Regions from separate parts of the Homo sapiens genome. Here all the other regions are linked to region 3. The links come from fine-mapping of genetic effects on gene expression. A gene starts in region 3. Each other region holds a variant in brackets. All regions are shown on one strand. Distances are from middle to middle.

Region 1 (5,630 bases), 34 kb before region 3:
TTCCATTTCCTTGGTTGGGGCTCAGTGGTCAGGGCTCAGGCAAGGCCTGGGCAACCTCCTTCTAGCTTGGGCTACCCTCTGGCCTTCTGATGGGGTGAGGCACACCTCCCTCCCCAAAATCACCCACCCCTGGAAACACACAGTGCTGGCCCCTCAGCTCTAAGGGTCCATCCTCCAGATGGCAGCCCTAATGAATGCTTAGCCCGAGTCTTCATGAGAAAAGAAGGGGTATGGATGGTTAGGAACCAAAAAAGGGAATCTGACCTTCTTTGGTGGGAGGGGAAGGCTGCGCCTTGTCCTCAACCACAGGGAGGATTTCTCTCCAGGGAGAGTTTGGAGCATAGAGTGGAGCCCACATTACTAGGGGGTGGGGCAAAGTCAGGGCAGGGAGTGGCAGGGACAAATGAAGGGGAGAACTGGAAACACACATCTTAGTGTTTGGCATTTATAATGGATCCTGTAGTGATTTTTACTTTAAATTTAAGGGTCTTTAAAACTTATGCTGATCACCTCTTTGGTTTCCGAGGTCATCTTGGTAAAGTGCAGTGTGTGTATTTTAGGTGCTCAAAGTGAAGCATAGCATAGGATACCCAGCATGAGCAAGGCCCTCACTAGCCGCCCAAGCCCGCATGGCTGCAGGGGAGGTGGGAACAGCAGGACAGAGCTATGGGAGAGTGACGGGAACTGAATTCACACCCAAGGTTAAGCCTTACCTCTCAGGACACCTTCTCCCTTGGTCCCCTAGCCTGATGCCTTCACCTTCAGGTAAGTTCCTTCCATTCCTCTCATCTCTTCCCACTTCTGGGAGCTCCTGGGCATTCCTGCTTCCAAATCCTTCATTATCTGTCACAGAACCACAGTGCTATCCTCAGAGTCACTAAGAACACACAGGCTGTAGTGCCATTATCTGGTTGACAATTCTCTTCCCCCCCATCAGTAGAGAAGCCTCATGAGAATGACATGTCTATTCCCCAGGGTCTAACATGGGGGTGCACATAGGTAGCCCTCAACAAATATTTGTGGAACCAATGGATGAATGATTTTAATGGATTGATGTCATATCTCTCTTTCCTCAGACTGGAAGCTATTTAAGAGAGGGCCTCTGTCTGCCACTACCATTGCTGTATTCCCAGCAGCAGTGGACTGACCAGCAGTAGTGCTGGGGATATATCTTTGGGTCATTGGTTCCATGAAGTGAAATGAGCTCCGCCTGCTGGAGTGAATCAGCCTTGGCAGAGATGGGTGTGGGTGGGAAGGAGGTCTGTCCCATTCTCTAGGAAAGTGGGCCAGCCCACCTGTGGGAAAGACACAAATAAAGGCTCTCTGGCGCATTGATCCTGAGCAGTCCCAGACGGCAGGATAAAAATAAGGCCACCTAATGTTGTACCAAGCATTTTATATAGATCATCTCATTTCATCCTCACGATGGACCCATGAAGTAGATGTGACGGTCATCTCCCTATTACAGAAGAGGAGACCCTGGGAGGTCACATGACTGGCCCCAGGCCACACAGGTAGGGGGCAATGGCACCACAACCACATGATATCACCTCTCAGAGTCCTGAGGATATTCTAGATGCCAGAGATTACGGGAGCCGGGGAAGGAATCTGAATGTGGGTTGGCACAGAGGGGATGGGCCTGGAAAACCTGGACTTATGCTGTTGTCAGTGGTGGTCACTGAGAGTCAGGAGGTGTGAGTTCCAGTCCCAGCTCAGCTATTTTACGTGCTGCTGGTGGTTCTCCCTTCCCTGGGCCTTGGTCTCCTCATCTGCATAATGGGATTATGCTGGCAACCACTTCACAGGTTGGTGCTGAGGACTCAAAAGTCCAGCACACAGGCAGGGGATCACCATGCTGGAGGGAAGGTACTTCCAAGTAATAAGAGGAATAAAGTGCGGGGTGAAGGCAACACTGAAAACTTGAAACCCCAGGACCGGAGGAGGGTGAAATAAAAACCTGTTTGGCAAAGACAGGCTCAAACCCCCATGAGCTGTCTGGCTGTCTGAGGGCTGGCTGCTGGAATCTCCCCAAAACCATCCCTCGGGGCTCCTTTCTGAGCTTCTCCAGAGCAGAATTGAGGTGTGGAGGAGCATGACGGCCTCAGGTCAGCACACTGTACCATGCACACAGGACGTATGTTTCTTTGGTTTTATTATTACAAACACACCATGGCTCTGTCACAATAGGGAAATCTAAGCTCTACATACCATTTCTTTTCTACCTGGACAGGGCCCCATAAAAGCCTCCAAGCCACGTGTAGATGTGAGACACATTTGACAGAACATTTCAACTCATAGCTTATAATGATGCCATTTCTCCAGCTGTGCAAGGGCTTTACAAAAACTGTGCCAGGACTTCCCATGAGGCTGGATTGCTTGATTCATGTTTTATGAGCCCCACAATACTGAAGCTCCTTTTCCAGGGACTTGGCATAGGCAGTCAATTCCACATTTGGGATAGGTCCTCTCTGGAAGTGAATGTCAGGCAGTGACATCCAAGTTTCTGCATGCAGTGGGTTAACAGCCATGTTTAGGGGGAACATGATTTAAAAAGTACATCTCTCTCCCTCCTCCCCCACATGCACAAGGCTCACATCTCATTATGGTGCGGCCCATGTACATTAAAGTGTGATACTTGGTTTTGAAAACATTCAAACAGTCTCTGTGGAAATCTGAGAGAAATTGGCGGAGAGCTGCCGTGGTGCATTCCTCCTGTAGTGCTTCAAGCTAATGCTTCATCCTCTCTAATAACTTTTGATAGACAGGGGCTGA[A/G]AAAGAGAAGTTGGTAACGTCAAATAGGTGCAGATCTCCCCATGTCTGTCTAGGACACTGTCAGAATCTCAAGGACCAGGGCCAAGCAGCCTCCTTCTGCCATGCTCTCCTGCACATAGCAGGTGCTTTGTGGTTTGTGAAACTTCACTCTTTACTCAAGGCCCGATGTTCTGGTTTTCTGTACCTATCAACTTGGAACTAGATCCTCACCATGGGTTCCTGCCAAGCCCTTTGCAATATTCCCAGACTTCCTAAGCTGAAAACTCACCTTAACCCTAAAAGGTTGTTACTCTTATTATCCTCATCTTACAGAGAAGGAAATGGGGTGCTCTGGGTCTGACCCCAAGTCACCCTGCTGTTCTGACTCCAAAGGCCAGGCTTCTTTTACTGCACCATGATGTTCTTATCTATATACAGCAGATGGCAGGCTTGGGCTTGCTTGGGGGTAAGGCCTAAACAGGTCTGCAATGACTTCAAACCCAGACCAGACTCACCTAGTCGCACAGACCTCTGGGAAGCCTGAAAGAAAACACAAGGTGTCAGGTTTTCTAGTGAAAGTTATACCTGCAACTGCTTATGACAATGGCTTTGCCCATTGCCACCCCTACTCAGAAAAAATGCTGGGGCGAGGAAGAGGAAGGGGAAGGTGGAACTTATAGGCACCAGGGAGTTCCTCAGGTGGCCTTGGCAGACATAAGTTGTGCAAGCCCCTATCAAGTGTGCCTTCAGGTGGACATTCCTAGGAGACCCCCAAGCCAGGCTTTCCCACTGAGACTACAGCCTAGAGTTGAGGGAGCTGGGGCTGCACAGAGGTGGCCTCAGGAGTAGAAGCTCAGGGCCAAGAATCCTTCTCGAGGGCACTAAGGAGACCCCTGTGTACAAAAGTAAAGTGACACAGTAAGCTCCAGGCCTCTGGGTTTAGGATGGCTCCCTGCAGCCTCTCCTCTTGAAGTGCAATCTTTCTGTAAGGCACTTCACATTCCCAAGAGGCTCCACCTGACCCGAAGTAGCAAAAGAGCCAAGTGGGGCACTGAGCACTGGGCAAGCTGGGGAGCAGGAAAGGAAGCTCAGAAAGAGCCAGAGAGGGTTTGAGAGGGAGGTGGGGCTGGGGCAAGGAAGGGATGGCTCCACACACATAGCGAGCCCAGTATCCCTGTATCCAGAATACATACAGTGCCCAGGAGAGCCCCAGCCTCACCCAGGATGGGCAATGCCATGGACAGCAGAAGAGTGACCCAGAGGCCCCGGCTCAGGGCAGGCCTGGCCACTGTAAGATGAACTTGGGATGGGCTGCCCTCTTGGGCAGATGGCTTCCAGAGCTATGTCTGTTCTCTCCAGCAGTGACTTCCCCATGATCTGAGGCTCAGAGGCCTCGGTGTGAAAGCCTGCGCTTTGGCCCATGAAAGCCAGGGAGTTGCCTTGGTTCTTTACTCTGAATTTGACACAGGCTGGGGCTGAGGATGCCTCAGTGGGAGTGGGGAGAAGTTTTAAGAGAGCCCTGGGGAGCAGCCAAGGAAGACAGGGGCTGGAGAGGCTCCTCTATGGCCCAAACAGAGGACCTGAGGCTGCTCAGGCTAGGCGCAAACCTAGCAGGCATCTTACCCTGGAAAACGCTGATGCTTGTTTGAAGATCTCAAGCGCAGAGTCTGCAAGTTCATCCCCTCTTTCCTGAGGTCTGTTGGCTGAAGAGGAAAGAAAAGGCAGGTTTGACCAGAGTGAAACCATTAGCATGTCATTCATAACAACCGTGACTGAGGGGCACTGGTGGGCTTTCTGGCTCACATTTCCAAAGACATGTTTTCTCCATAATGTTTCATAACTCATGGTAGAACTTGGCCCATGGGGAGAGAGCACCAAGAAAGGTGAATGCACACATGAGGAGAGGCAGGACTGAGGTTCAACTGCACTGGAGGCAAGGAACATACACTGAGGTGAGATGCTGTAAGAGGAGTGCTGGGAATCGCGCGGACAGCATCCACGCGAATACAGAAAACTGGGCTGTGTCCGAGGGGAGCTAATATAGCTGGGCAACTCCGCAAAGAGCAATGTGTCCTCACATTCCTTAGTGTGGTGCATTCAAAACCAACAGCTCCCAATTCACTCTGCAATCAGTCACATAGGCACAGTTTAACTATCACAATTACATGTTATTCTCATCATTGTTTAGAACAGTTTTTCTTCTCTCCACCAACTGCCACATGAAGAAAAGGACTGGCTGCAGAGTCAGTGGGGATGCGACACTTACCTGGAGGCTGCAGAACATTGGTGATGACATGGACCACGCCATTTGTGGCCATGATGTCAGGCTCGGCAACAGGCTCCTTGTTGACACTCACCACATTGTTTTTCTAAAAGAAAAACAGAGTAGTGGTTGAAAGTAGAGCATTTATTTATACATTTATATATTTATTTTATTCATTCAGCAAGTGTTTACTGAACAGTTTTCGTTTTTTTCCTTGTTCTTTGTTTTTGAGATGGAGTTTCAATCTTGTCGCCCAGGCTGGAGTGCAGTGGCATGATCTCGACTCACTGCAACCTCCGCCTCCTGGGTTCAAGTGATTCTCCTGCCTCAGCCTCCAGAGTAGCTGTGATTACAGGCATGTGCCACCACGCCCAGCTAATTTTGTATTTTTAGTAGAGATGTGGTTTCACCACGTTGGCCAGGCTGGACTTGAACTCCTGACCTCAGATGATCCGCCCACTTTGGCCTCCCAAAGTGCTGGGATTACAGGCATGAGCCACTGCACCCGGCCTACTGAACACTTTTCATATGCCAAGTCCTGTGTTAGACTGGGGATACTCTGGTGAATGAAACAGTCCCTGCCCTTGACAGACCTTCAGTGTGGTGGATTAATTCA
Region 2 (5,670 bases), 23 kb after region 3:
TCACACTCAGTAGAAGCCCAAGGGCGAGTATAGCCTAGAGCTCTGAACTCAGATCAGATGGAAGTAAGAGGATTCCAAATCAGCTTGTCAGCACCATTCTTGAGGCCCAATCTCATGGGATCCTCTGAAAGAAATACACTGCCTCATGAGAGTGATCTATTCACCAAACCATCTTTCTGGAACTGGGGCCTGGCCCCAGGGTCCCTCGATAATCCCATGGATGTGATTCCTAAAATTCCTCAGAATATCTGGTTGACCCAGCATAGGTGAAAGAGAGTCAGATGTCCCACTGGGGAGACATGAGGACCAGGGCCCATATGAGTCCTGGTCTAGGTTTGGGGCACCCTGCCTCGCTGTCAATGATGGCTCCAGCTGGTCCCAGGCATCCAAGGGGCTTAGAAAATTTCAAGGAAGTTACCCCAAAGCACAGGGTCCCCAGAGGCATGGAGCCCAGGACAGAGATGCCACTTCCTGTGTCTAAAGATATTTGGGAGGAAGCCCTCCTAAAAGAGAATAACATCTACAGAAACAGAGAAGCAGAGTGGGAAAGACCAAGTGACAGAGACAATCCTGCCAACACTGAGCCCTCCATGCCAGTTGTGCCCTGGGAACGACCAGTTTTGATAGCCAACAAATTCTTTTTCTGACTTTAGCTAGTTTGTATTATGCCTCTGTCACTTGCAACTAAAAGAGCCCTGGCCAATGAAGAACAATTCAACGCTTTCAAGACCAAATTTGTGTCTTCTATCCTCATGGGAGCCACTCTGTTCCTCCCTGCCCCACAGCCAAGGAAGTACCTCTCCCCATGTGTCCAAACATGCACCAGATGGTGAAGCAGGCGAGGTTCCTCTGCCTCCTGGAAAACGACAAGAGTGGATGTATTAGGTACATCCTGTACATGAAGGATGGGACCCTGGTTTTACCAAAAGGTCTTTTCAAAATGCCTCCATGAACAGATTTGTCCCACCCTCCTCTGCCCAGCTCAAAGTACCTTAGTGGTTCCCCAATGCAGTCAGAGTAACCCGTGTGATCTGGCCCTAGCCTACACTTCAGCCCTCCACTCCCCAGTCCCCACTCTCCACTCCCACTCTGTGCTCTTCAGCCACTCTGGATTCCTGTTTCTTTAACAAGAAAGTTTAGTTCCACCTCTGGGCCTTTGCACTAGCTATCTCCTCCATCTGCAGTGCTCTCTCCCCTTTTCATTATTCAGATCTCACTTTAAAGCAGACAGAAAGGTCTTTCCTGATCCCGATCACTCTCTATTATCTTAAGTCTCTTAATGACTGCTACTATTTGATTTGTTTTGTTAGGTGTTTATTGTCTGTCTCCCCCTACATTTAAACTCTTGTGGGTAGGAATCTCACTGGTGTTGTTCACTGCTATATCCCCAGTATCTAGACGAATGCCTGACACAGTAAATGCTCAATAAATATTTATCAATTATGTAAACTGAATGCACACAGGCTACGTTTGTTGACTTGTCTTCTCAGGAATATCATCCTTTCAGCTCTTTAGCAAAGCCTTGGGCTGACTTATTTATTTGGTTCAACAAATCACTGCTGAGCATCCACTCTGCTTAGGTTCTGTCCAAGATGATAATGAGCCCTGGTTCTTAACCTTTGGAAGTTCAGACCCAGGGAAAGATAGACACTAGGCAAATGCCAGACAATGTGGAAAATGCTATGGTCAGGCTGTGCACTAGCACTGGTACTGGGGAAACAAAGAAGAATGTGATCTTTTTGTTGGGTACAAGAGTTCAGGCAGTGAAGTCCCAGAAAGCCACAGAGAAAGATCCTTTGGGACCTGTACACGTTCCCCTCTTGCAACACCTCACAGTTGGGAATTATGAAAGCAGTTCTCCCTGCCCTTCTTTCTCCCTAAAGTATTGGTATATGTGAGTGGGATAAGTGTGAGCAATTTGTCCTGAAAGGAGAGGGAGCTGGAACAACCAGTACTTGGGAGAACTTGTGATTATCCTGTTTGCGTGACAACAGCCAATTAAATTATTTACGCCTCTCAAGTGCATTTTGCATCAAGTAGAATATCTGGTCTTGGCGCTATTTTATAATCTGCTAAGTTAGCTAACTGCCCCTCCTGTCCTGGGTTGCGGCAAGGAGATGTCTTGGGACAGAGTAGAGGGTATCGGGGGGCTCCTGCCTTTAGAGAACTCGGGACGACAGGCAGCCAGCCGTGCCCATGTGTGGAGGGACAGAGTACAGGAGTCCCTGAGGTCCCAGGTCTTCCTTTTATTGCCCCAAGGGGGTTCACACCTAAGACCAGCCGTGCCAAACAGCAGGGTGCCACTCTGCTCTTTACCATGAGGCTGACTCACCTCTACATGTCAGACAGTAGAGAATGTGGAATTCTGAACAGAAGAGAAAAAAATCCACTTGGAGGCTCCAGACTAGGCCTCAAGGTCTCTGGAACTCAAGGAGTCTCTGCACACCCTGATGCATCAGGAGTTACTCACTTGTGCCTTAGATTCCTTGTCTAAACTTGGCCTAACAAAGGGATCATGGCTCATTGTCAGAATGAAGTAACGTCCAGCTCCTTATGGCTAAATTATGAATCAGTCATAAGAGGGATAATTGACTTCTTTTAAAAGGAAGCCTGAAATCCATTTTCTGCTATATTAGGTGCACACATACACAGAGGCAAGATGACTTGAGTAGATCAAATGTTTGTAAAGTGAAAAGTTATACAATGTATGGGCCAGCTCCTCTGAGGAAATCGAACAGAGACAAGCTGGAGAAGTGGGAATGGGGCATAAGAGACAGCAGCCCTCTGGGGGCACACGAGATTCTCCCTGGCACAAAGGCGGGACACTGGGAAGTATCTGCTGTTTCTGTTCCTTTGGCCCCTGGAGCTGACCATTCAGCTCAAGGTCAGCCAGTCCCTCATTTCTGCAGTGTTCCCACTGAATCACAGCAGC[C/T]GAGAAAGATGATGAATGTTGGAGCTGGAGGCACACTGGAAACTAGACCAATCCCCTCATTTGTAAACAAGGCAAGAGAGTTCCAGAAGGGAGCTCTGCCTCATCTGAGGTTACACAGCAAGTCCGTATTGGAGTCACGAAAGGGGAGCCGGTGTTCCTGATTCCCGGCCCACCACGCTCCCAGGGCACCCTCGTGATACACCGTCTGGTATTGTTAGTTATTTTCTATGATACGTGTGTCTGTCTTAGCGCCCTAATGAGACTACTCCCTCGGTTGCTTATAGCATTTTATTCTTTGTGATCCCCCGTGGCCCCTTAGTTAGAATTTTCCTCAAGACTTTAGTTTTTAAATGATTCTTGGTTAATAGCCTCCTACCAAGCTGCTCCCAACTTCTCCTGAAAATATCCAAGATGATGTTGAAAAAAGTAAAAACGTTATTCTGTGAGTTAAGATCAAGATTCAACCTAAGGCCAGGCAAGAAGCTGGATTGAAAATCTCATTTCAGGGCCACCCACACTGTGTGCCAGGGAACCTGCCCCTATAACCAGGAACACAGGGCTGTGCCATGCAAAACTCGGGTGCTTTCCCGGGGGGCCCCCTGGCTGCACGGGACCCCCTCCTCATGGCCTTGGAGATGCACAGGGAGGAACTATGGGTTCCACAGTAGCCAGGAGGAGAGTCCCATGGGCACGGCACTGCAGCCACAGCCCACGATGGCAACGTTGGAGGGAGGCATGCCAGGGCACTGCCCTTTCTACACATTCCATTTCTGTATCATGTCAAGGAGCTACATGGTGGGGTAGAAGAAGATGGATTTCAGTTTAACAGACGTTCAGTAAACAAAAACGTGTGGTCACTAAGAACAGCACTAGAAGCTGCACACCACAATCGGCTGCTCAACTGTTTATTTAACAAGGCTTTTGATAGACACCCAAGATGTCAAGGGCAGTGACAAGTACAAACCCCTAAAACTTCTCTTTTATAAATCAGTGGGTCTAGATAGACCTTTCACTATTTGAGGAGGGGTGGAGGGGTGGGGACTGGGGGGAGAAAATCATGAAACTTCTGAAAAAGTACTCAGGTTTGCAATTAAAAATGTTTTTAATGCAATATCTGAAAAAAAAAATTAAGTCAACAAGGAGCAGAGCTGACACCATAGAAAAGTGAATCAGTAATGTGGAGGGCAAGAATGAGATCAAAGGAGAAGAGCAAAATGATGAAAATGATGAGGAAGGACAGGATGATTCGGTCCTCCTTCTCTGTCCTGCTATATCCAAGAATTACAGAACTTCTGAAGAAAGAAACCCACTCAAGTGGGAAGAAAGCAATAATCAAAGATATCATTAGAGAAAACAGCCCTTAGTATGCAAATCGAAATGGCCCATAGCATTCTAAAAAAAATAAATTTAAAGGGGGCTGTCTAGAAAAGAGTTCACCGAGCAGGCCTGAAGACTGCAATACTTAGAAAGGCCTGCTACTAAACACCTGCTCTCTTGGAATTTTAGTTCATGCTAGACAGAAGGACCTACATGATCATGATCAGACCCCAGTAAAAAAAACTTGTGTAATGGGTCTCTGATGGGCTTCCCTAGACAGATACATCATGCATACGTTGTTTCATTTTTCTCACTGGTGAAGAGTAAGCTGTGCGTGACTCCTAATGGGTGAGAGAGAGCATGAGGAAACCTGCACATGAATTCCTCCAGACTGCCTGTGCCTTTTCCCTTCATGAGCCACTCATATATCCTTACAACACTGCTGTAATAAATCTTGGCTATGAGTACACTTTAAGCTGAGTACACTTTAAGCTGAGTTTTGTGAGTCATTTTAGTGGGTTTCCAAACAGCGATGGACCTGTGGCCTAGGGGATCCCTGACAGAGAGGCCTCACTGTGTCACAGGGGCTAAAACACATTCTAGCAACATATTTGAATTATAAGACTAATTTGTTTTCATGTCATGAGCATTGAGGGAAAAAAAATACCTCTTTCAAAGTTTACAAAATTGGTTGGCTTCAGACTTGTCCTTTGCCACCCTGTATAGAGCAGGCTTTAGAAAGTTTTGAAGGAAGAAAGTTAGGATCCAGTAATTTTGCAGCCTTATGAAGGCAACAGACAGACATTCTTAGACATTCAAGGACTTGAAATAGACTTATACTAGTGACTGAGGTAATAAACTTGAAGAACACAGGCCGGGCGCAGTGGCTCACGCCTGTAATCCCAGCACTTTGGGAGGCTGAGGCAGGTGGATCACCAGGTCACAAGATCGAGACCATCCTGGCTAACACCGTGAAACCCCATCTCTACTAAAAATACAAAAAAAAATTAGCCTGGCCTGGTGGCGGGCACCTGTAGTCCCAGCTACTTGGGACGCTGAGGCAGGAGAATGGCGTGAACCCGGGAGGCAGAGCTTGCAGTGAGCCGAGATCACGCCACTGTGCTCCAGCCTGGGCAACAGAGCGAGACTCTGTCTCAAAAAAACAAAAACGAAAACAAAAAACAACAACAACAAAAAGGGAATTCTGGATATGCAGCTCTTCTTTTATGGAGCATAGATCCCAAATTCAAAAGTCCAGTTGGACTGTGTTATCAGAGAATTCTGAGATTTTATGCTTAGCCCTTTGCTATTTCCCTAAGCTGTCCTTGGCTTCTGAAATTTTATAAGAAGACCAAGAAATTAATTTCTTATGCCATATCTTTCACCCTACAATTTAGGAAGTATCACCTGCAATGACGGAT
Region 3 (5,670 bases):
CTCCAGCCCCCGGTCCTATTTATTGTTACAGAATCCCAGAAGCTCTTCAATCTGATCAAGCAGGAAACAATTACTGTCAATGAATTCCCTGCCACTTTCCGTAGGCGTTTGGCGAATCTTCAGTGAGTCTCTTGTGGATGTGGCTCCAACATTCCTTTGCTGAATGTTTCCACTGCTGCTGTCCTTGTGGCAGCAGCAGAGGCTGGGGGCGGCTGTGACCCTCTCCTTCTCACATCGGGGAGTGTGGGTGGGCTGTGTACATAGGAAGTTCATGCTGAAGCTTAATTGAAATGAGCAAGTTGCTTCTGGGCCTCAAGAATAACAGCATTGATGTTCAGCTTAGATTTGAAAACCAAGTGCTTCAGGAAATTCAGTTCAGTTTTTGGTGGTTGATGTTTGGAAGTGTGATTGTATTTTTACTTCTCTTTCAGTATTATTTTTCCCCTTCCCTATAGCAACACAGATATAGCTGGGAGTCAAGAGACCATATCATAGTTATTACTCTCCCAACAGCATTCTGTGTCTGAACTAAGTCACTCTCTACCTCACTAAGCTGCAGTTTCACCTCCTGTAAAATGGGAACATGAACAGTAGATCTCACTGTGTTGTGGTGAGGTCGAAAGCAAAAGCGGCAATCGAGTGCTGCGCACAAGCAAGGCACAGCTGTTATTTCTTCCTTCATATCAGGCAGCACGCTACAATTCCTTAAAATAGCAAAGTTTTCCTTCCCTTTCTAACAGTTTTCACTTTGAATGAAAGGCTGGAGCTAGAACAACGTTATCCATTTGCACAAGGCGCCACAGCCCTGTGTGCCAGGCCAGGCAGCCCTGTGGCATTAACAGGGACAGTTAGATCAGAGTAAATACAACTGTGCCTGCAACCATTTTGCCATGGTTCATGTGCCTGCGCATCCAGATTCTACTGGGACAGGGGTGCTCCTGTGACTTCTTAGATTACTCTGCCCATCACAGATTACAATAGGCCTTTCCAGCTGTGCTGCAGGAAGCTAATTAAGAGGCTTTGCCTGCAGGGGTATGGTGGGGAAGTTGATCTAATATCTGGAACTCATAATCAAGAGCATCTGCATTTAAGAAAAAAACCCTGTTTTCCAGCTGGTCAGCACTCTTCTGGGCTCTGAAGGGAAAGAGGTTTGCTGTAAAGATGGCTCTTGATGGAAAGCCCTCAATACCTTTGAGGATCCTTCACTGTGGCTGTGCAGAGAGATGCCCTTACAGGTGACACTGTTGCAGGGCATGCTATAAGGATCTTCTCCTGACTTAGTGGCGAAGATACAGAAGAAATAGAACCCTCCTAGGCAAATTGAGGCACCCAAACATAACACAATTCATTGGCAGGAAAGGCAGAGAGACCAACGGAGAGGTGGGCAGAGATAATAAAAATGCCAGGTGCTTGCATTTTGATGTTGAGGCCTCATATCCCTCTCATCTTTCTGACATCCCCCCTCACTCTATTCTGCACACTGCCCAAGTCAAAGCTGATTCTCCCACTTCCAGAAAGACCCCAGGATATCCCCAGTATTCTCCTCTTTCCAGGAGGGTGTTGAGGTTGCAGCCAGGCCTGGTTTGATTTCACTCTGCAGGGTGGCCAGATGTGCTCCCAGCAGGCCCTCTCCGCCAGAGCCCCAAACTCCTGAAAGGCCTAGACCATAAAGCCACAAGTAGAGGAAACAAGAGCAACTATGCCCTACAAGGGGCAGCCTGTACCCGTACCCAGAGCACTCCTAGTGCAAGGAGCCAAGACTTTCAGGGCCTGTGAAGTCAACTCTATCACCCCCAACAATGAGTTTTGATTTGAGCACAGATCTGCCCAGTCTCTTGGAGGTTTGGGCATTGCTTGTGGGTGTGAACGCCAGACCCCGATGGTATTTAGGCTTCCTCTGAGGAGTCACTACAAGATTCTACTCATATATAGTTTTACCTAGTTATGAAAAAGAAGTTGGTGCAACCAGGTAGGCTGGAAGCTGCAGCAAAGCCTGGGTATTTGTGACGCAGGTATGGCCTGGTTTTTGAGGTAGAAATGTTGCCTGCCTCTGCCTGGGTCAGTATTAGGGCCACTATCAGACCAGACCTTCTGCTTGAGTTTGTCTCCTAAAGCCAACACATCTTCAGGGTCTCAAAGGAATTCCTGCAATGATAGTGTCCTACATTTACAAACCCAGCTATTACTTTAAGACAGACTCCAATCCTGGCTCCAGTGCACACTTCAGGACTGTGGGAAAGTGGAACCACTCAGGACTCAGTTTCCCCATTTGAACAGTGTGTGTGAGGGCCCAGTGCATTCTCCTGCTCTTCATCGGGCAGGACAAGAAGTGCCACATTGCCCTTGCTGTACCCAGAGAGCAGTGTCGGGTGCCAGCAGTGTCTGAGTGCAGGGCCTGGCCAGGAGCACAGGAGCCTGGGGCACCTTAGATGCTGCCACCGTGTGTGGCCCAGGTTCTTGTCTGGAGTCGCTGGCCGGGGGCCTGGCTGGGTTGGAATAGGTGTACTGCTGGGTGGGCTTTGCCCTTGGCACCCTCCCACGGTGATTATGGCCAAAGAGTTGCCATTTCCCCCTTTCTGCAGTGGCTGGGAGGAGAAGCTGAAAGCGCTGTCCGTCTCAGGCTCTTGGCCTGCGTCGAAAGTCTCTGGTCCACTTCCCCACTCCCTTCTACAAAGCGGCGGCCTCCCGCTTTCCCTCCATGGTCCTCCACCTCCCTCCCTCTCTCCTTCCACCGCGTGCAGGGCTGGTGTCCGAGCGCTCCATGCTGCAAGGTTTTTAGTTCGGGCTTTGTCCCCTGCGCCCCCAGCCCAGTTCAATGCCCCCAGCGGCTTGCGCTCCGAGCCCCGACTACCTGACCTTCCGCAGCCCCTGGCCAGGCGGCTCGGCTTACCCGTGCTGGCGGCCCCGGAGCCTGCTGTGCTGCAGCACCAGCTGGTAGGGCGACTTGGCGGGACCCGCCAGGGTCGCGGCGGGGCCCAGGGCCAGAGCCAGGGCGAGAGCCAGCAGCCGCACGAAGAGCGCCATGGAGCGGGACGACGCGCACCGAGCGAGCTAGCGACCGACGGGCAAGCGGGCGGCTCCAGGGAAGTGAGAGCGCCTCCGCCGCCCGGGCCAGGTTAAGTAAGCTGCGAGCGGGAGGGAGCGGACGCCAGGGGCGGGGAAGCTGGGCCGGCCCGTGCAAGGAGGGCGGGCCGCCTGGCGCCTCCCAACCCGTGCGCCCCTGGCTGCCCTGGGCACCCACCCGCTCCCGCACTGTGCCCGTGCTCAGTTTTCCCAGCCCTTGCCCTCACTGCCAGCCCTCCCTCCCTCTCTCCCTCGCCACAGTCTTCCTCAAACCAAGGGTATAGGTCCCTTAGGCCTCCTGTGGCTGCTTCCAAATGGGGACCTTGGGACTGAGGGACAGCTGTCTCGGGGGCTTCGGTCCTGCATGCTGGGGGCCCGAAGATTCCCTCACTGATCTTGAGGCTACAAAACACTGCAGGGAGGGGTGAGGGGAGGCAGTGCTGATTCCCAGAACACCATGGCCCATCAGACTTGTTTCTGCACCCCAGGAGCTGACCACCCTCCCCAGCTCCTCAATCTCTAATCCCTCCACCCCCACCCCACCTGTCATGCTCATTGAAAGACAGATGAGTAAATCGTGTGATCCACAGAAACGCCAAAAATGTGGGGCAGGTTTTGTTGGGCTCTAAGCTGCTTTTGGAGCCCGTGGGGAAGGGTGGGGTCCTCACCTTGGTACTAATTCATTCCCTTCTTCAGTAAACATCTCTGCAACAGTACCTGCCAGATAGATTCTGCAAAGGCAAGAGTCCTGCCCTGGAGGAGCTCAAGGCAGGTAAACAAATTGTCACATGGTAAAGAGGTGATACTTACCCAAGCATCTATTAATCACCTGTCAGTTACTTGGCACTGCTAGCCCTGGGGAGACACAGATGGATTAATAGAATGAGTGAGACCTAAGCCCTTTGTGAAAAAGCTCCAATTTGGGAAGATCCGTAGCCCAAGCCAATGATGTTCCATGAAGAGTAGCTGGGGCTTTGGGAGCTAAGAAGAGGCACCTGGCCCTGACAGGGTGATACCTGCTCTGAGGCCTGAAAGATGAAAATGAGTTAATCAGGTAAACTGAGGCATGCATTCACGAAACTCAAGTTATCTGGTTGGCTGAAGCACAGGGAGGTGGAGTCAAGGGTAGGGAAGAAGGGGAGGAAGGTAGCAGGGCCCAGACTCCAGCTAAGAGCCTAGCGGGTGATGGGTGGAGGCAAGTGACATGGCCAGTGTCATGAGAGGCTTAAGGAGGCAAGAAGAACAGGTAACCAGGAAGGGACCATGGGAGAGCTTGAACTATGGTGGTAGAGGCAGAGATGGGGAAGGCTGGGCAAATGTGAGGGGTGTAGGAGGTAATAGTCTCAATAGAATTTGGAGTCTGTATACAGGGAGAAGGGGAGAAAGGAGAGTCAAGGATATTGTAGGGTGTTTGTGGTCTGGACATTGCAGCAGGTGATGGTGCCATGTTCAGAATGAGGCACATGCAGAGTGCAGGCTTGCCAGGTAGATGAGTGGTTTGGGACACCCTGAGTCTGAGGTGCTTATGACTCATCCTGGTGAAGCATCCCATGAGGATAAAGCTGGATATGAGGATCGGGGGCTTGAGTGAGGGACGCGGGATGAAGATTCACACCTGGGAGTCATCCTCCAGTGACAGAAGAGCCCAGGAAGTAGAGAATGTGGGGTTGTAGTCAAGGAGGGGTATCCTAGTAGGAGGGCGCTGCTCAAAGTGAGGAATGCTGCCAACAAGACAGATCTGAATGGCTTTCACTGTGTCAGAAGCAGAGAGGCCACTGGGGACTTGGCTGTGGAGAGCAGATGGCCAAAGCCCGAATATGGTGGTTTGATGGAGAGATGAGTAGCATGTAGAAGCTTGTCTGAGAAGGGAAGGGGCGAGTTAGGATGGCAGCCAGGGAAAGAAAAAGACAAGCGGGGCTTGGAGAGGTTAGAACTCTGGTAGAAAGAAGGTGGGAAGGAGAAGGGAGAGAGTGTGGGCACTGGAGGAGGGCCTACTGAGAGCATAAAGCAACTGAGGGCCTGCATGGGGAGTGATCAAGCTAGTGGAGAGGAGGGAACAGGTGTATGGGAGATTTTAGTGGTAGCATTGATTAGACTTGGAAACCCCTTGGGCATGCAGGGTTAGGGAGGGGGAGTAGAGCTAACCTCGAGGCTCATAGCTGGCAGGAAGGGATGCCTGTGCTGGGCACGCTGGTGAAGGTGCACATTTGGGTGTGTGAGGAGAGTGCTCCATTTGTGTTCACATTATGTGTGAACAAGCCACCTGCATTTCCAGGAGGGATGGACAGGAGGGAGCTATATTCAAAGGTCTTGAGCTCAGGATAGGTATGAGGATTGGAGATGCAGATTTGAGTCACCACTACGAGCAGGTGGTAGCTAAAGTCATGCACTGGATGAGCTTCCTTGGGAGCAGGTGTTGGAAGAGAGGAGGAGGAGGAAGGAGAAGAAAAGGAGAAGATGGGTTCAAATACCAGTCTTTCTACTTCCTAGCTGTGTGGTCTTGGGCAAGTTATTCAACCTCATAGAGAGGATAATAAAACCTACCTCACAGGACTCTAAACTAGATTACATGATACAATTCAAGTAAAATGGCCAATAAATATGCAT
Region 4 (5,670 bases), 30 kb after region 3:
AGTTCTCAGAGTGTCGGAGGAGTTGATGCAATAATAATTCAATTCCCCCTACTCTGAAAAGCAAGGCAGTCCAACCCGGCAGGATGCCTGCAGCCAGGGCTGTAAACTCCAGCTCACCTCAGGCTACCTCCAGCTGAGCAAGCCCACACCAGAACCTGTGGGCCTGAACTCTTGCAGGGGAAGAGTTCAAACAGGGCCTTTTCCAGTTTGCATCATGTGGCAGAGCCCTGTAGCCAATCAGCTGGAAGCGAGTTCCAGGTAGGTGGGATGGGAAGGATCTGGACTGGGGGGCCTCCTCACAAGGGAATCATCATGGACACTGGCAACTAGGGGGTAGCTCCTCTGGCCAGTGTAGTTCTTTCTTCCCTTTGCCTGGGTAGAAGCATGGACTTTGAAGCCAGCTGTCTGGGACCCTATCCCAGTTCTCTGCTTACTTGCTGTGTACCTTAGGTGAACTGCTTTAACTTTCTGAGCCCCTGCTTCCTCATCCGAATTGTGGGCATGAGACTAGTGTTACCCAACAGGAAATATGAAGACTGCAGGAGATAATCCATAGGAAGTGTCTACGCTGTGCTTGGGTCATGGAAAGTGCTCATTAACTGTTAGTTATTATTATTATTATAATTGCCAGATTCTCTCTGTGTCTTATTTCCTCTTTAAACCATGGCATAATTTACACTATGACACGCTCTTGTGCATAATTTCTTCTCATAGTCCTAACCAGTTGTAGTCTCTGCTTGAGGGTGATCTATGCCTGTGTACCCTCTATCGGTCCCCCTGGCAGTCACCATCCCTCTGGACAAAAATTTGCGTGGTCTTTGGAATGAGTCTGGGTAATTGAGTGGCAGCCAACCTCTGCCAGCATCCTCCCTCATCGGGAGACTGTGGAGCAGGGGCAATGGTCTCCTGAGCCAAAGAACAGCTTGCAGATGGCCCCAGTGAGAAGTGCCACTCTGAAGCCCTAAAAGATGATAAGGGAGAGTAGGAGAAGCAAGCCCAGAGAAGAAAGAAAGTGGAGAATGGTCCCCAGAGGAAGGGAGGCAAACAGGGAGCAACAGTTACACAGGTGACTGCAATGTGAGAAGCATCCAAGAACGGACAGAGTTTCAAAATGCTCAGGAAAAAGCAAGGTGCAGTCTTCTGGATGTGGTGGCAGAAAAGACCCCAAGAGAAAGACATCATCAACATAAAAGCCTGGAAAAAATAGGGATCATAAAGATGCCTGTGTGACTGACAAACAAATTAGAGGTGTAGGAAAAGAAAAGAGCGGGAATGGCAGGTTGCAGGTAATTGAGATTTTTCAGAACAAGATGACAAGTAAACTACATCAAAGCATGTCCAAGTCAGGTTTGACTGGCAGTTTTCCCTGAATGTGCTAATTACTCTTATTTGTTCTCAAACAAAAATTATTTATTTATCATGAGGGCTGAGGGCCCAGGGTGTGGGAGAGCATCTTCTCTCAGCAAGCAGGTGAGTAGCTCAGTTTGAATGACGGAAGATACATGACTATAGAGCAACACAGTCACTTTTCATCAAGATTGAACCCTATGGCTATATCTTTGAGAAGCCACTGCATCAAAGACCTGGCTCAGATAAGAGTTTCCGGAGAAAAAGAGAAGGTGGCAGCCAGAATAACTGTGATACTGTCCTTTTTGTACCAGCCAGGATAGGCTAGGTGATGCTGCAGTAACAAACAATCCTAAATCTTAGGGGCTTTAAACAACAAAGATTTATTTCTGTCATCTGTGCCACAAGTCCATTTCGGGTTGGCTGGAGTTCTGTTCTGCATCCCTTCAGGGACCCAGGATAATGAAGCAGCCACCGTCTCAAACTGCTAGTCACTATAGCAGAGGACAAGGGAGTTGAGACAACACACACACTCACACACACACACACACACACACACACACACGGGCTCTTAAAACTTCAGCTCAGAATGATAGACATCATCCCTGCTCAGATTTCACCAGCCACAGTCAGGCACATGCCTATACTGAATTGCAAAGGGGATGGGGAAGTAAAATCCCACTTCCGCTGCTCAGAAGAAGAAACAGAATGTATGTGAACAGCCCTAATGACTCACCAAACATCCATTCCAGGAGCAGGCCTCCCTGCCCGTTACTCAGCTGCCCCTCCCTTGGCCTGCGACCCCTTCAGTGGTTCTCAGTCATCTCTGCCCCTGTCCCCATCACTATCTTCAAGGCACATTTTGGATGAGATGATTGGGCATAGTGCTTCCAAATGGACTCTAATCATAAAATGAAGGAGAACACAGACTCAGAGTATTGGTGCAGAGCAGAATCTCTGAGAGGACCTAGCCCACAGCCCCTGCCTTTCTAGATGGAGAAATAGGAAGTCAAAGGAAAAACCATGTGCAATGCGCAGAATTCTAAGATGGGTCCTAAGATTCCTGGTCCCTGCTGTGCAGGCATCATCTCCTCCCTTTGAGTGTAAGTGGGAC[C/T]CGTAAATAAGACTGGCTGTCACTCCAGTGACATGTTACTTTGTATGGCAAAAGGGACTTTGCAGATGTAATTCAGGCACTCTCCTGCTGGCCTGAAGGAAAGTAAACAGCCATGCTGTGAACTTCCCGTGGAGGGGACCTGCACGGCCCTCTAGGACCTGAGCGCAGCCCCTAGATTGGCTAGAAAATGGGACCTCAGCCCTACAACTGCAGGAACTGAATTCTGATTACCGGGAACCCTGAGCTCCAAATGAAAACATAGCCCTGGTTAACACTTTGATTTCAGCCTGATGAGATTGTGAGCTGAGAACCCATCTCCTCTATGTCCAGACTCCTGACCCATGGAAACTGTGAGATTAAACAAAAAAAGCCACTGTATTGTTTTAAGCCACTAAGTTGAAGGTAATTTGTTACCCAGCAATAAAAACAAGTATGTGAAAATGGGAGACTGTGTAGCAGGGCCATGGTCTCCTGAGCCGAAGAACAGCTTGCAGATGGCCCCAGTGAGAAGTGCCACTCTGAAGCCCTAAAAGATGATAAGGGAGAGTACGAGAGACAAACACCTCTAATTTGTTTGTCAGTCACACTGGCATCTTTATGATCCCTATTTTTTCCAGGCTTTTATGTTGATGATGTCTTTCTCTTGGGGTTTTTCTGCCGCCACATCCAGAAGACCGCACCTTGCTTTTTCCTGAGCATTTTGAAACACTGTCTATTCTTGGATGGCTTCTTACATTGCAGTCACCTGCGTAGCTGTTGCTCCCTGTTTGCCTCCCTTCCTCTGGGGACCATTCTCCACTTTCTTTCTCCTCTGGGCTTGCTTCTCCTACTCTCCCTTGTCATCTTTTAGGGCTTCAGAGTGGCACTCATCATGGCAGTGGCAGGTCCTGCAATTTGAGCAGTATTCAAGGCCTTTTCGTGATTTCTGTCCCACTTGCTGAACACAAACTCTCTATTCCAGGTCTGGCGGCATCTTTGCAGCCTCTCACCTGCCAGGATTGCTCCCCCTGTGGTCTTCCTCTGCCTGCTTCCCAGGGCAGGGCTCCATCCAGCGTCATTTGATGGAGCTTTCACATGCCATTCCCCAATAAAATAAAATGCCCTGAAGTGACCCCGGCCCCCTGTACTCTTCCATTCTCTGCCGGTTCCATAGCATCCAGCACAACTACAAGCCTCCCTGCAGTTGATTATATCCCAATCATATCCAATAATAAAATTCCACGAGGATTAAATCATTTAAATTGTCTCTTTTTGCCAAGACTTTAAGCTCTCTAAGGGCAACAGACGTGTTTACTCCAGGTGCTACATCAGGAATCAGAAAAGGCATTTGTACTTGTAATACACCAAACTGGAAACAGCCCAAATGTCTATCACTGAGTGAAGAGAGAAACAAATTATCTTATTTCCATACAATGAGATACTGCTCAGCTAAAAAAAAGAACAAATTATCCATAACATGCTATAACATGGGTGAATCTCAAAATCGTAGGCTGAGTGTAAGATATAAATGATATCTACTGTATGATAATTTACATAAAAATCTAGACAAAGCAAAACTCATCTATATTGACAGGAAGCAGGTGGGTGTTTGCTCATGGCTGGGGTTGGGGGGATAATGGCAAACGTTGCATTCTGGGGTGATGGAGATGTTCTGTGTCTTGATTGTCGTGGCGGCTATGTGGATGTACACGTTTGTCACAACTCATCAGATTGTATACTTAAAATATATACATTTTATTACACATAAATTATGCCTCAATAAAGTTGACTTGGAAAAAAATCTTTGTATATTCTGAGTCAGCTAAAGCTTTGTTGGAAATGCTTTGAGACATGATTTCTCATGTCTCATGATTTCTCAACATGATTTGAGAAGGGTGAGCCCAAGAAAACATCTACAGACTTCTGTTTAGGTAGAGCCATCTCCCAGAGACAGATGAGCTCCCAGGCTGAGAGCAAAGATATGCCTCAAAAGGTAAGTTAACCGACTTAAAGAGAGATTGCTTGGCCAGAAAAACCCAGAAAAAGAACAGAGAGGATGGCAAAAAGGACCCATGTATTCAGGCGGAAAGGCCTAGATTGGGGGGTTCAAGGATAGTCTGGCTGTGAGCTCTCCCCATGCTGTGTGGTGGGGTGGAGCTCTTTCAGCGGTCTCACCATGGCCCAGAGAAAGAGCTTTTGGGACCAGCCACACTGCTTTGCTCTGAATCCACAGCCACTCCACTGGCCACCAGCCTGATTAACTTCTAGGGAAGCCGGGTCCTGGGAAGAAGGCATGAAGTTTCTAACAAATATGAAGGCATCATCATCTGGATGAAGTGTCAGAGGACCATAGTCCAGGCAATGCTGCCTGCTGTGGCTTTTGATTAGTCAGGCATGACCCATTCCTCCCACTGTCACTCAAGACACTGCCCGGAGAGACAGGCACAGCCAGGGCAGCAGCCAGAATGCTGAGGATTTTGTGGGTTACCTAAAGCTGTGGAGAAGCCAGCAGGGCTCCAGACCTGGAGAGAGCCCCATAAAAAGAAAACATTCCCTTCTTTGGTAGAAAAGAAATGATACCCGAGCAGCTAGCAACCCTGACTGTGCAGAGGCAAAAACCAAGTTCTGAGGTAGGAAAAGAAAGTGTTTGTGTGAAAAGCCCGGGGGCTTGGAAGAGCCTCGGAAATGAAACAGGAAAGGAGGGAAGAGAACAGGAAAGCTCAGCTGGCTGCTGTGGGGCTCAGTGGCGAGGCATGAGCAGCAGCAGAGGCTGAAAGGGGCAGAGAGGGTGCTCACAAGGAAAGGCAAGGGGAGGAGAGCTCTGCAGTCTTAATGGGGGCATGGGGGTTGTGTGTACAATGGCTGCAGGGTGGACCCTCCTCTTGACCAAACCCCAAGTGCCCTCCGTCCCCCTGAATTCCAAGCATGATTATCAGCACTACTTTCCACTGGAGTCACCCAGCCCAACACTTGTGCGCACTGCCCTGACTCCAGCACTCCATAACCCAGCCGTCTAGACTCTGCAGTCTTCTGGCCCTAAGTCAGGGGTTGTCCACTCCTCTCTGGGGAGATGACTAGAACCTCTTAATTAGCTTCTCTCCCTCCCCACTTGTTAAACCTTATCAGCAGGTACTCCATCATGGAGAAGGAAACCAGTGCATGTTAAGCATTTATTATCCTAGGCATTTTAATTATAATTCTCATAACAGCCAGATGAAGAAGGCAGCACT

Alleles and levels. Positions count from the first base shown, and alleles are read on the strand shown. Sizes are in standard deviations (SD) of each study's normalised expression. Not every link is listed here.
As copies of T replace C in region 2, the expression in skeletal muscle of the gene that starts at base 3,092 in region 3 goes up (small effect, 0.36 SD a copy in GTEx).

The links.
Region 1: its variant is fine-mapped to the expression of TGFBI in whole blood (INTERVAL, PIP above 0.99).
Region 2: its variant is fine-mapped to the expression of TGFBI in skeletal muscle (GTEx, PIP above 0.99).
Region 4: its variant is fine-mapped to the expression of TGFBI in whole blood (INTERVAL, PIP above 0.99).

Annotation. Positions count from the first base shown.
Region 1 is chr5:136,060,324-136,065,953 of GRCh38, reverse strand. It overlaps TGFBI (transforming growth factor beta induced), which reads right to left. Exons shown (of 17, transcript NM_000358.3): 14 at 5,018-5,120; 15 at 4,375-4,454; 16 at 3,267-3,291; 17 at 2,136-2,768. The coding sequence ends at 2,728. Among named protein-coding and RNA genes, the nearest start is that of TGFBI, 34 kb to the right of the region's middle. RefSeq lists a silencer at 3,177-3,276. The variant A/G (reference allele first, on the strand shown) is at 2,773.
Region 2 is chr5:136,003,661-136,009,330 of GRCh38, reverse strand. No RefSeq gene overlaps it. Among named protein-coding and RNA genes, the nearest start is that of TGFBI, 22 kb to the left of the region's middle. The variant C/T (reference allele first, on the strand shown) is at 2,933.
Region 3 is chr5:136,026,410-136,032,079 of GRCh38, reverse strand. TGFBI (transforming growth factor beta induced) reads right to left here and starts at 3,092. Exons shown (of 17, transcript NM_000358.3): 1 at 2,891-3,092. The coding sequence starts at 3,024. RefSeq lists an enhancer at 806-875.
Region 4 is chr5:135,995,950-136,001,619 of GRCh38, reverse strand. No RefSeq gene overlaps it. Among named protein-coding and RNA genes, the nearest start is that of TGFBI, 30 kb to the left of the region's middle. RefSeq lists an enhancer at 1-254. The variant C/T (reference allele first, on the strand shown) is at 2,462.